Regions from separate parts of the Homo sapiens genome. Here region 1 is linked to region 2. Evidence: fine-mapped expression QTL. A gene starts in region 2. The other region holds a variant in brackets. All regions are shown on one strand. Distances are from middle to middle.

Region 1 (5,374 bases), 71 kb before region 2:
CTAGCCCAAGCTCTCTAGCGTTATTCACCTTAACAATTCCTAAACCTGGGTCTTCATCTATACTCAAGTTTCCTCCTAAGGTACTAACCATTACTGGAGACACTAAAATTTTTTTTAATCTTTAAAAGCTGAATAGCTCCACTAAAATTCATATATCCAATTTCATCCTTCCCCTTTTCCTACTCAACAGTTTTTTTAACTCAATAATTCTCAGTCACATTCCCTACAAAGCCAATTCTACATAATTCCCTTTCTTCAAATCCTCCTACCACCTTGCCTCAGGTCAAGATATAGCTCTTTCAACTTCCCCAGTTTCTCCTCAAAATATCTTTAAATTTTTGTCCATTTCTCTTCTTTCCTTCCCAGCACAGAGAATGGTTCCCGCTTTCCATACCTTATCCATCCCATTCCCCTTGAGCATCCCTATCAGCTATCAGTCCACAGGACTGTTCCCTTTCTCCTTCTCCACTGAGTCTTCCCTCTCAGCCAATAAGCAAGCTCAAACCTCCCTTCCTATCCTAGAAGAGCACTCTCTTCATCATACTACTCCTTAAGCTATCATGCATTCTCTCTTCTTCTCTTCACTGCCAACTTCTTAAAAGAAATCTACTCTGCTGAATTCTACTTCCTGACCACCCACTCCTGCCTCATGGTTTTGCAATCTGGCTTCCAGCCTTGTGGTCTAGTAACAGTGCTTTAGCATGACCACTGAGGAAAATACAGGATACTAGAAGGATCACTTGAAACCAAGGTTGAAATAGAACAGAGTTAGGCCTTGTCAGTGGAATTCTTACAAGAATTAACCAACACCCAATTCTCACAGTGCTGTGTTGTTGATTTTAAAAGGAAAAAAGTGTTCTTAATTATTTTTCTGAAAGAGGAAGAAACTCCAGGATGTAAATTACAAATCATATGGCTCTTTTTCCTCTTCCCTCCAATACCCTAGAGCATAACGACAATATATGATGATTTATATAACTATCTTGATTTATAATGAGTAACACAGTACTCTTTTACTTGTTAAGGTAGTTCCCAGGAATGGTAACATGGTTTGGCTCTGTGTCCCCACCCAAATCTCATCTTGTAACTCTCATTATTCCCATGTGTTGTGGGAGGGACTCAGTGGAAGATGATTGAATCATGGGGGTGGGTCTTTCCTGTGCTGTTCTCGTGATAGTGAATGGGACTCATGAGACTGGATGGTTTTAAAAACAGGAGTTTCTCTCCTCTCTCTTTGCCTGTTGCCATCCTCGTAAGATGTGACTTGCTTCTTCTTGCCTTCCACCATGATTGTGAGGCCTCCTCAGCCATGTGGAACTGTAAGTCCAATAAACCTCTTTCTTCTGTAAATTGCCCAGTCTTGGGTACGTCTTTATCAGCAGTGTGAAAATGGACTAATACAAATGGTAATGAGTTAATTTAACGAATAGTTCCACTAAGCCAGGAAAATAAATAATTAAAATTTGGAAAAACATATCTAACGTGAAGATATAATACGTTGATCATCTCTAGCCCTTGCAAACAAGGACCAAGATACACATCCTTCTAACTAAGAATAAAATTCAATATTAATTTTCTGTTTTAGTGAGTTTAGGGAGGTTTGTACATGTAGCTGGTTCCATCCAAGCCTTTACTGTGACTCACTTTCACTAGGATTCTGCTGACAATTACCTCTAATGCATTCTTGTCTTGCAAAGTGTATCATTACTCCTGCCTTGACATATCTATCTTAGTGTCATCATCAATTAACCCCATGCTTGCCAGTTTCACAATATAGGATGCTTTATAATTATTATAATGACATTCAATCATAATATAAGAATCAACTGAACCTTCAGAACACTGAGGGTGTGGGCTGTTTGCCTGGTATCCCCATGTTTTAGACAACTAAGGACTTTTTTATTTTTGCCTTCTTCTCTATGCCTCATGCTACGTAGGTTGATATCTGAAAGCATCTACAGAGTGAGTCTTTCTGTCACTTTAAACAAATTTCAAAAGCATTGATGTATAATTATTTTAGAAAAAAAGGTGAGAAGAAGGTATGATTTGGAGAGTGTTAATACTCATAATCCTTGGTTCATAGATTTTATATTTTAGAGTGCTCCTTCTATGGGTACTTTCTTTCTTCTTTTTTCTTTTCTTTTTTTTTTTTTTTTTTTGAGATAGAGTTTTGCTCTTGTTGCCCAGGCTGGAGTACAATGGCGCCAGCTCAGCTCACTGCAACCTCTGCCTCCCAGGTTCAAGTGATTCTCCTGCCTCAGCCTCCCGAGTAGCTGGGATTATAGGCATGCGTCCCATGCCCAGCTAGAGATGGGGTTTCACCATGTTGGTCAGGCTGGTTTTGAACTCCTGACCTCAGGTGATCCACCTGCCTCGGCCCCCCAAGGTGCTGGGATTACAGGCACGAGCCACTGTGCCCAGCCTATGGGTACATTTTTAAGTAGAAGGAGCTCATTGGCAGGGCGCGGTGGCTCATGGCTGTAATCCCAGCACTTTGGGAGGCCAAGATGGGCAGATCACGAGGTCAGGAGTTTCAGACCAGCCTGGCCAACAAAGTGAAACCCAGTCTCTACTAAGAATACAAAAAAAAATTAGCCAGGTGTGGTGGCAGCTGCCTGCAGCCCCAGCTACTTGGGAGGCTGAGGCAGGAGAATAGCTTGAACCCAGGAGGCAGAGGTTGCAGTGAGCTGAGATCACGCCACTGCACTCCAGCCTGGGTGACAGAGTGAGACTCCATAAAAAAAAAAAAAAAAAGGTAGAAGGAGCTCATTACAGTGACTATTCACCATCATATAATTAAGCAGGAAATAGGGCTGAATGCTATTTGCCAGTACCTAAAAAACACAAGAGAAAGACAGCCAAGTTACATGGAGGCTATCCCCTCTACTGTAAGATCATGAAAGTAGAAAAGTACAGATAGCCAGAACTATCTCTTAGTTTCAATAATCTAAGAATACACAGTTGAGAAATTCTGCTTACTTTTATGTTTCACCAAGAGTATATTCAGTTAAGAAACTTAATTGTTAACTATGGAACAATAATGCACCTTTCCATGGCTATTTTCTGGCAAGTAAAGTCAGAAGCCTAAGGTAAAACTCCTCTACACCATAATTAAAGCTGGAATACATCTTATCCTTTGTCCAGCACAGCTTACTTATGCAATGTCATTCA[C/T]ATACCAAAGGGAATTCTACTTGCAATGAAATACAAGCCACAGGGACACTATAGAAATTTCCCACAATTATTTGTTCCAAAGTAAATACATTTCCTTTGATTTTGACAAAACCATAAAACACAGAAGTGTATTGTGAGCCTCTATTTAGCTGTATGTTTACCAATACCCTGGAGGCTTTACTCTTTGAAACACAACTAAATTACATCATGCTATTTCATCTCTCTTCACTTGGCATGCATATATGTTATATCTAACAAACATCAGCAGGGCAAAACAATGAACTAATTCATGAATCAAGATTCTGTTTTATAGTTCACTTGTGAGGGATAATCGTGACTTAGCTTAAATGATATTCCATGCCTTGATTAAGGTTTCAAACTATGAACGTGTTGACTGAGCCTGGGTCCCTGATATAACACACAGAAAACATAGAACATTCATATTATCTTTGCTGAAGGACCCTAAAGGTTTTAGCTCATATACGGCATATGAACAAACAACTCAGTATACAGAAGACTGCCATCCTAAATTTTATCACTGCTTGGCCATAACAACAGTAACTCTGTTTTCACTGAACTTTGTTTTCTCTTCCAATTAAAAAGGCTTCCAAATGTTCGAGTCTCTGTAACTCAGGCTTCCACAATCAGATAATTACTTCAAGGGAGCACTTTGTCTTCAATTTAGATGGCCACCTTTTTTTCTCTCTTCATCTATTTTATTAGATAGTGGGTTAGATGAGATTATAAAAATAGCACTAAATGTTCACAAATCACATAACTGAAGAAGTCTCACTACTTTATAGTTTCTATTTGTGGTTACCCTTTTATTTATTTATTCATTCAGTAAATACTGAGCATCTAAAATACACCAGGCACTAACATTTCAAGAAACAATACAGAAGGACCTCGGAGTTCCATGCCCTCCTTTATTGTGGTTTGTTCACGTCCATTCTCATGAGCACATCTTAGCTTTATTACCACCTGGAATTGGGCCATTCTGAACTCATAAATGCAAACTACATCTTCCTATCTGTGATTCTCTTCTTTTCCTTTGCTCTTTATAAACCTATCCTTTCATAGCACTGACACCTTTAGTTCCTCATCACTTGGATGTCTCCACACATACCTGGGTTCAGACACCAGCTCACTTAGAGCCCAAAGTTATTAGTAGTTAATCACTCTATCAACACTCTAGCCAGTAGGCTTCTTTCTGGCCTCCTTTGTCATCTCACTGCCTTCACCATAACCATCCCTAGCTCAGGTCAACCAAGCTGGACCCACAGAAGCTGCAGTGGAATGGCATGGCCCCAAACAAAGTCCTGGCCCTTGGAGTCAGTCTGTGGTTTGTAGCTGCTTCTGTCACTTGCCAGCTATGTGACTTATATTAAGTGATTAACCTCCATAAGCCTCAGTTTCTTCATCCAAATGAGGGAGATAATGACACCTTCATCACAGGCTTCTTGCAAAGAATATAGAACAGGCAACTGAAGCATGTAGCATAGATCCTTGCATATAGCAGGCATGAATAAATAGCAATTAGCATTATTTTTCCTACATCTTGTTCAGGACTGCTTTCTGGAGAAAATTGCATATTCATGTTGCTGGGCTCCATTATAAATTTATGAGCTCCAATCTCAGCTGGGCCCTCAAGGGTTTCTCATCTGCTCCATTTCCATTCTCCATACAAGCTGTTCCAAACCTTTACTACTTTCCTCAAGGGTCCTCCCAGCTCCCTGCTTCCCTCACTCTCAGCAGGTGGCCTAACCTCCCCCTTCCCTGAGATAACAGGTGTCTGTGAGCAAGTACAACTTCCCCTTCGGTCCTGACTTCTCCAATCAGCTCTATATTCACACCTCTTCTTCCACTTCATGATTCTCTCAGACAAGAGGTATCCCTGCTCATTTGATCATTACCTAAATGATTCAGGAAGTATTTATTGGGAAGTATTTATTGACTGTATATCAGGCCACAGCTGGGTGCAAGCCTGCCTTCAAACAACTATACTGTAAAGGATGAGACAGATCAGTAAACAAATAGGAACTAAACAGTGGGACTCCTGCTCCAATTGATGTAAAAACAGGTACTAGCCAAGACTTAGAAGGTCAGCCAGGACAGCTTCCCATGGGAGACTGCATCTGAGCGAAAAGCTGAAGGAATAATAGCAGCCAGGTTGTGGGGAAGGGGAGGAAGTTTAAGTTAAAGA
Region 2 (5,374 bases):
CAGAATATACTCTTTTTCTTCTCTTGAGGCATAGCATTGTCAGCTATTAAAAATGGATTTAATGTTTTAATTTTCCTGGATTCCTTCACCAACCCCTTAATTTCACCCCAATCTTCCAGATAGAATTTACATGTGACTACTGGCCATGTTGTAGGGACCAATTGGATCCTTTGTAAAGTTTTAAAAATTGCTTCCTAGTAAATTCTTATTCCCAAGAAGTAGTCGTTATTAGTAGGTGAAGTCATTAGTGCTCACTTAGATACAGCATTGTAAAAATCTTTACCCATTCAATGTTCAGCAGCCTGAAATTTCACCTTTAGGAAAAAAAGAGGGATCTTTGCCAGACAATTCCTATATAATGGAGCAAAATCTGATTCTGTAGTGTTTTGCTTGTTTTCGATTTAAGGGAGATGAAGATACATTTCTTTATGTCCTTTGTTTACTGTTCTGAAGTTTTACAGATGGTTACTGTATTGGATATAATAATTTTGCCTAGATTTTTAACTGAGGGGGTTTGAGAACCAAGGGACAAAATGTAATGTGTTTTCAAACTTCAGCTTCCCTTCTGCTGTAACTTTCACAAAGTATCTCCTGAAAACTCCTGTCTTTGTACAAAATTCATCAAAGAGACAGTGGAGACTGGGGAATTTTTGAGGTTGTATTCGGATTGGTGTCTTCAAGGGTCCCTTTCAGTTCGCAGTCCAAGGTGCCAGGGACTACCCCGTCCTCCCTCCCTCTTCTGGCTTTGCTCTCCTGAGTCCTTTTGCCTTCTCTTCCCCCTTCTTGGATTATCTTTTCATTCTCGATGAGGTTCCCACACACTGCGGTGTGTGTCTCTGAAAACCCACTGGAGACCTAGCACAACTCTCCGTACATCCCGTGGTGAGAACAGAATGAAAGATATATTGTTTAAAAAGCAATAATTAAAATCTAGTCTTCAGTTCCTTCTTCCTCGTCATATTTTTTCTCCGTAAGCCTAGAGATTTTATTTTCACTAGTGTGTTCCCTTGTCTCCAAAGAGCGTGTGTGTGATATTATATTCGGGAAAGCTACAACTCTCTTTTCCTTGTCCTTCTGTTCTCTCTTAATAGTTGAGCAATGTCTGTTATATTTTCCCCTTTTCCTTTTTTTCTCAGTCCCAGATTCCCGCCTCTCCCCACTGTCAGAGCATCTATCAATGTGGTGTCCATCACAGCGGCAGCGGCTTTCTCTTTCATCTTCCTCCCTCTGCCAGAGCCAGGGAGGGAGAGTGGGAGGCGTCAAGGAGGTAGGGGAGAGACTGGCAGAGGAAAAGGAGTGGGTGGGTGGGGGCCAAGTAAATAGATACTTAGATGATGAAGTCAAGCCACTGCGGCAATGTTTCTTGTCAGTTTCACGCGGGCAAAGCGTGCCTTTCGGTGGGTTATAAGCAGCGCCCGGTCCTTCCTTCTCTCGCCAAGTTGCCTGATCCTTCCCTCCAGGCGCGCGCGCACACACCACACTCACACACCCCAAAACCAAGACTCGTCCTACAGGATCTGGGAAAAGAAAAAGAAAAAAAAGCCCTCAATCACCACCTCCTTCTCGCCGACTCCCCCTCACCCCCCGCCTCCCCTCCAGCGGGCAGCCAAGGAGAGCTAGAGGCGGGGGAGGGGAGAGGGAGGAGAAGCGACGCAAGTGGGTAGCTTTTCAGCGCCGGCGAGGCGCGGGAGGAGGAGAAGCAGTGGGGAGGCGCAGCCGCTCACCTGCGGGGCAGGGCGCGGAGGAGGGACCCGGGCTGCGCGCTCTCGGGCCGAGGAACCAGGACGCGCCCGGAGCCTCGCACGCGGCCAAGCTCGGGGCGTCCCCTCCCCTCGGCCGGGCGAACTCAAGGGGCGCAGCTCTTTGCTTTGACAGAGCTGGCCGGCGGAGGCGTGCAGAGCGGCGAGCCGGCGAGCCAGGCTGAGAAACTCGAGCCGGGAACAAAGAGGGGTCGGACTGAGTGTGTGTGTCGGCTCGAGCTCCGGGCAGAGGCATTTGGGCCCGAGGCCCCCGCTGTGACTCCCCGAGACTCCGCAGTGCCCTCCACTGCGGAGTCCCCGCGCTTGCCGGCAAAAACTTTATTCTTGGCAAACTTCTCTTTCTCTTCCCCTCCTCCTCGGCCCCCATCTTCTGCTCCTCCTCCTTCTCTAGCAGATTAAATGAGCCTCGAGAAGAAAAACCGAAGCGAAAGGGAAGAAAATAAGAAGATCTAAAACGGACATCTCCAGCGTGGGTGGCTCCTTTTTCTTTTTCTTTTTTTCCCACCCTTCAGGAAGTGGACGTTTCGTTATCTTCTGATCCTTGCACCTTCTTTTGGGGCAAACGGGGCCCTTCTGCCCAGATCCCCTCTCTTTTCTCGGAAAACAAACTACTAAGTCGGCATCCGGGGTAACTACAGTGGAGAGGGTTTCCGCGGAGACGCGCCGCCGGACCCTCCTCTGCACTTTGGGGAGGCGTGCTCCCTCCAGAACCGGCGTTCTCCGCGCGCAAATCCCGGCGACGCGGGGTCGCGGGGTGGCCGCCGGGGCAGCCTCGTCTAGCGCGCGCCGCGCAGACGCCCCCGGAGTCGCCAGCTACCGCAGCCCTCGCCGCCCAGTGCCCTTCGGCCTCGGGGGCGGGCGCCTGCGTCGGTCTCCGCGAAGCGGGAAAGCGCGGCGGCCGCCGGGATTCGGGCGCCGCGGCAGCTGCTCCGGCTGCCGGCCGGCGGCCCCGCGCTCGCCCGCCCCGCTTCCGCCCGCTGTCCTGCTGCACGAACCCTTCCAACTCTCCTTTCCTCCCCCACCCTTGAGTTACCCCTCTGTCTTTCCTGCTGTTGCGCGGGTGCTCCCACAGCGGAGCGGAGATTACAGAGCCGCCGGGATGCCCCAACTCTCCGGAGGAGGTGGCGGCGGCGGGGGGGACCCGGAACTCTGCGCCACGGACGAGATGATCCCCTTCAAGGACGAGGGCGATCCTCAGAAGGAAAAGATCTTCGCCGAGATCAGTCATCCCGAAGAGGAAGGCGATTTAGCTGACATCAAGTCTTCCTTGGTGAACGAGTCTGAAATCATCCCGGCCAGCAACGGACACGAGGTGAGCGGGCCGCTGCCCCAGTTCCGAGAGGCGTGGCGGGTCCCTGGGAAACTCAGAGAGGGAGGAAGGGAACGAAGGCGCCCGGCCGCCCGGCTGAGGGTCCCGAGTAGATCCCTCGTTTGTTTTGGGGTGTGTGCGTAGCTGGGCCCCCGGTCCGCAGTGTGTGTGTGTGTGTGTGTGTGTGTGTGTGTGTGTGTGTGTGTAGGATGGGAGGTAGAGGGGCAGGGTAACTTATTCCAAATGGATCAGTTTAGGGGGTTCGGTGGCTGAACGGTTGGTTCGCGGGCAGGAACCCACAATGTTTCGCCTTCGGTCTTTTTGTTGGGCTGAGGGGTGCCGTGCTTTAAAGCGAGTAGGGCTGAATAACGCTACTGATAAATTCTTCCGTGGGACGGAAAACAAAGTGCACACGCTATCTCTTGGTAGATGTCTCTGCAAAAGTGCGTTAAACCACCAAAGGCTTAGGTGGAGACGAGCAGAGCCACAGGCGGGAGGAAGGGGAGGCGGGCGTGGGCTGGGGCAGGCGGGGCCGTCCCTACCACCGGTGAGCCGGGCCGCGGGGAGCAGGCCGGCCGATGGGGCGCGCACCCGGGCTGCGGGGGCGGTGCGGGGTTCAGTCCCTGCGGCCCCAGCGCCTGGGCTAGCAGCTGGGAGCTGTGGGTGCGCCGAGCCGACCCACCGCAAGGGTACACCCTGGCTGTACCGCCCCCAACTCTAGTTTTCTCCAACCGCCATCACTTGGAAACAAACCCACAACTTTTATTTGGGGTTTGGGACCGGATCAGGCCTTAAATCTACGCAGAAGAAAGGCGGAGAAGCAGCGGAAGCCGGGCACTAGTCCTGCAGGGTGGAAGGCGCTTTATCGGGTCTTCTGGCCCGCTGCGGGCGATAGAGCTGGTAACCTGAGTAGAGTAAATAGAGACACGTGGGTGCTGGCTAGAGAAAGCGCGGAGCAGGGCCGCGCTGGAGGGCTGTTTGAAGCCTAGTCCAGAGCTGGTCTAGGGGGCGGATGGACCCTGATACCCGACACTCCACTGGTCACCCTTGTTCCACAACTGGGAAACCCTCTGGAGGAAATCCGGTAGAAAAGTCCTGACACCCGAATGATTTAACCAACGCCTTTTCCCTCCAAAGAAACTTGGAGGATATACCTTTTTTTCCTTAAATGGCATCTTTCTACCCCCAAAAAGAAAGTGTGTGGTTTTGAGGGCGGGGACATTTTGGGTTTTAAACAGCGCGTTTAAGAACACCTCAGATCTGCCTTCTCTATCCCAATGGCAGAGGTGAGTACGAATTTTGAAAGGCTGGGGGCCTGCGTTCAGAGAACAGAATGGTGTTCTTTACCCGTTGAATCCAGTTTGAGCGGGCTGGGGGCGGGGGTAGGGTGCACCTAACCCCGCGTAAAAGATTTGTGACTACTGTGTGCTGGGAAAAGGAGGTCAAAGGGAGGACACACGTCCAGAGAACCGAATAACATCCAAAACACAGGCTTTTTGCCAAACTCTCCTATTTGTAGAGCAGCCTCTCTTTCTACCCATTTTGCTAGTCCTGCCTTAGTCCATAAATAATTTTGCCACCCACTTCATATTCTCCACAATTTTCTGGTCCGGGTGAAGGACACTGCGTTCGAATCCGAGAGCACTCGGGTGTTAAGTGGGCATGAGGAGGCCTGAGGGTGAAGGAGTAATACCACTGATTTGCACGTGTTTGAGGCTGTCTGGGTGGATGGTGATTACCAAAACTGATATCAACTGGGCTACCTTTTAGATGTCTATAACCTGACTCTCTAATTTTCCTCCCTTTAACCACAGAATCGTTCTACTTTTGTAAGCCTGCACTCAGCCAGCCATAGTAGGTTATAAGCTCGAGTGGAGCTTCTGCTGTAACTGCGCTCAGGGCAGTTGCCTTAAGACCGCATCTGAGTGGTTGGCTTGTTTATGTTTAAATGCCATTTTCAGTTGCAAAATGATATTTCAGCCTTCTTTTAATCAGATCTGATTGAAGTGAACAGTGGTTGAAGAGGCTATCGAAACCATCAACCCCATTAACTCCTACTCCTGTAATATTAGGCATCCAAGGAGCCTTGATATGGTTTAATAAACAGCAGTCAGAACAGCATGTGGATCATTCCCAAATTTAACTATATTTTTATTGGTTTTGTTATTATTTATACGTTTTTGGTCCCGGGTGGATAATAATCACTCAAAAATACATGTTGACAAGAAAAGGATTATGCAGTACTAAACACTAGCGTATGTCTCTCAGAGTATAAAACAGAGTTGCCCCTAAACCTCTTCCTTTG

What was found. PIP is the estimated chance that this variant, and not a neighbour inherited with it, causes the effect. A credible set is the group of variants that fine-mapping cannot tell apart.
Region 1: its variant is the best candidate, but not a certain one, in a credible set for the expression of LEF1-AS1 in whole blood (TOPMed, PIP 0.79).

The regions. Positions count from the first base shown.
Region 1 is chr4:108,235,863-108,241,236 of GRCh38, reverse strand. No RefSeq gene overlaps it. Among named protein-coding and RNA genes, the nearest start is that of LEF1, 70 kb to the right of the region's middle. The variant C/T (reference allele first, on the strand shown) is at 3,172.
Region 2 is chr4:108,165,253-108,170,626 of GRCh38, reverse strand. It overlaps LEF1-AS1 (LEF1 antisense RNA 1), which reads right to left and starts at 3,102. Exons shown (of 3, transcript NR_029374.1): 1 at 2,794-3,102. LEF1 (lymphoid enhancer binding factor 1) reads left to right here and starts at 1,695. Exons shown (of 12, transcript NM_016269.5): 1 at 1,695-3,072. The coding sequence starts at 2,860. It overlaps LOC124900752, which reads right to left and starts at 2,688. Exons shown (of 2, transcript XM_047416528.1): 1 at 1,725-2,688; 2 at 1-1,517. The coding sequence starts at 2,127. The coding sequence ends at 931. RefSeq lists silencers at 1,696-1,745, 3,502-3,741 and enhancers at 2,006-2,095, 3,123-3,624.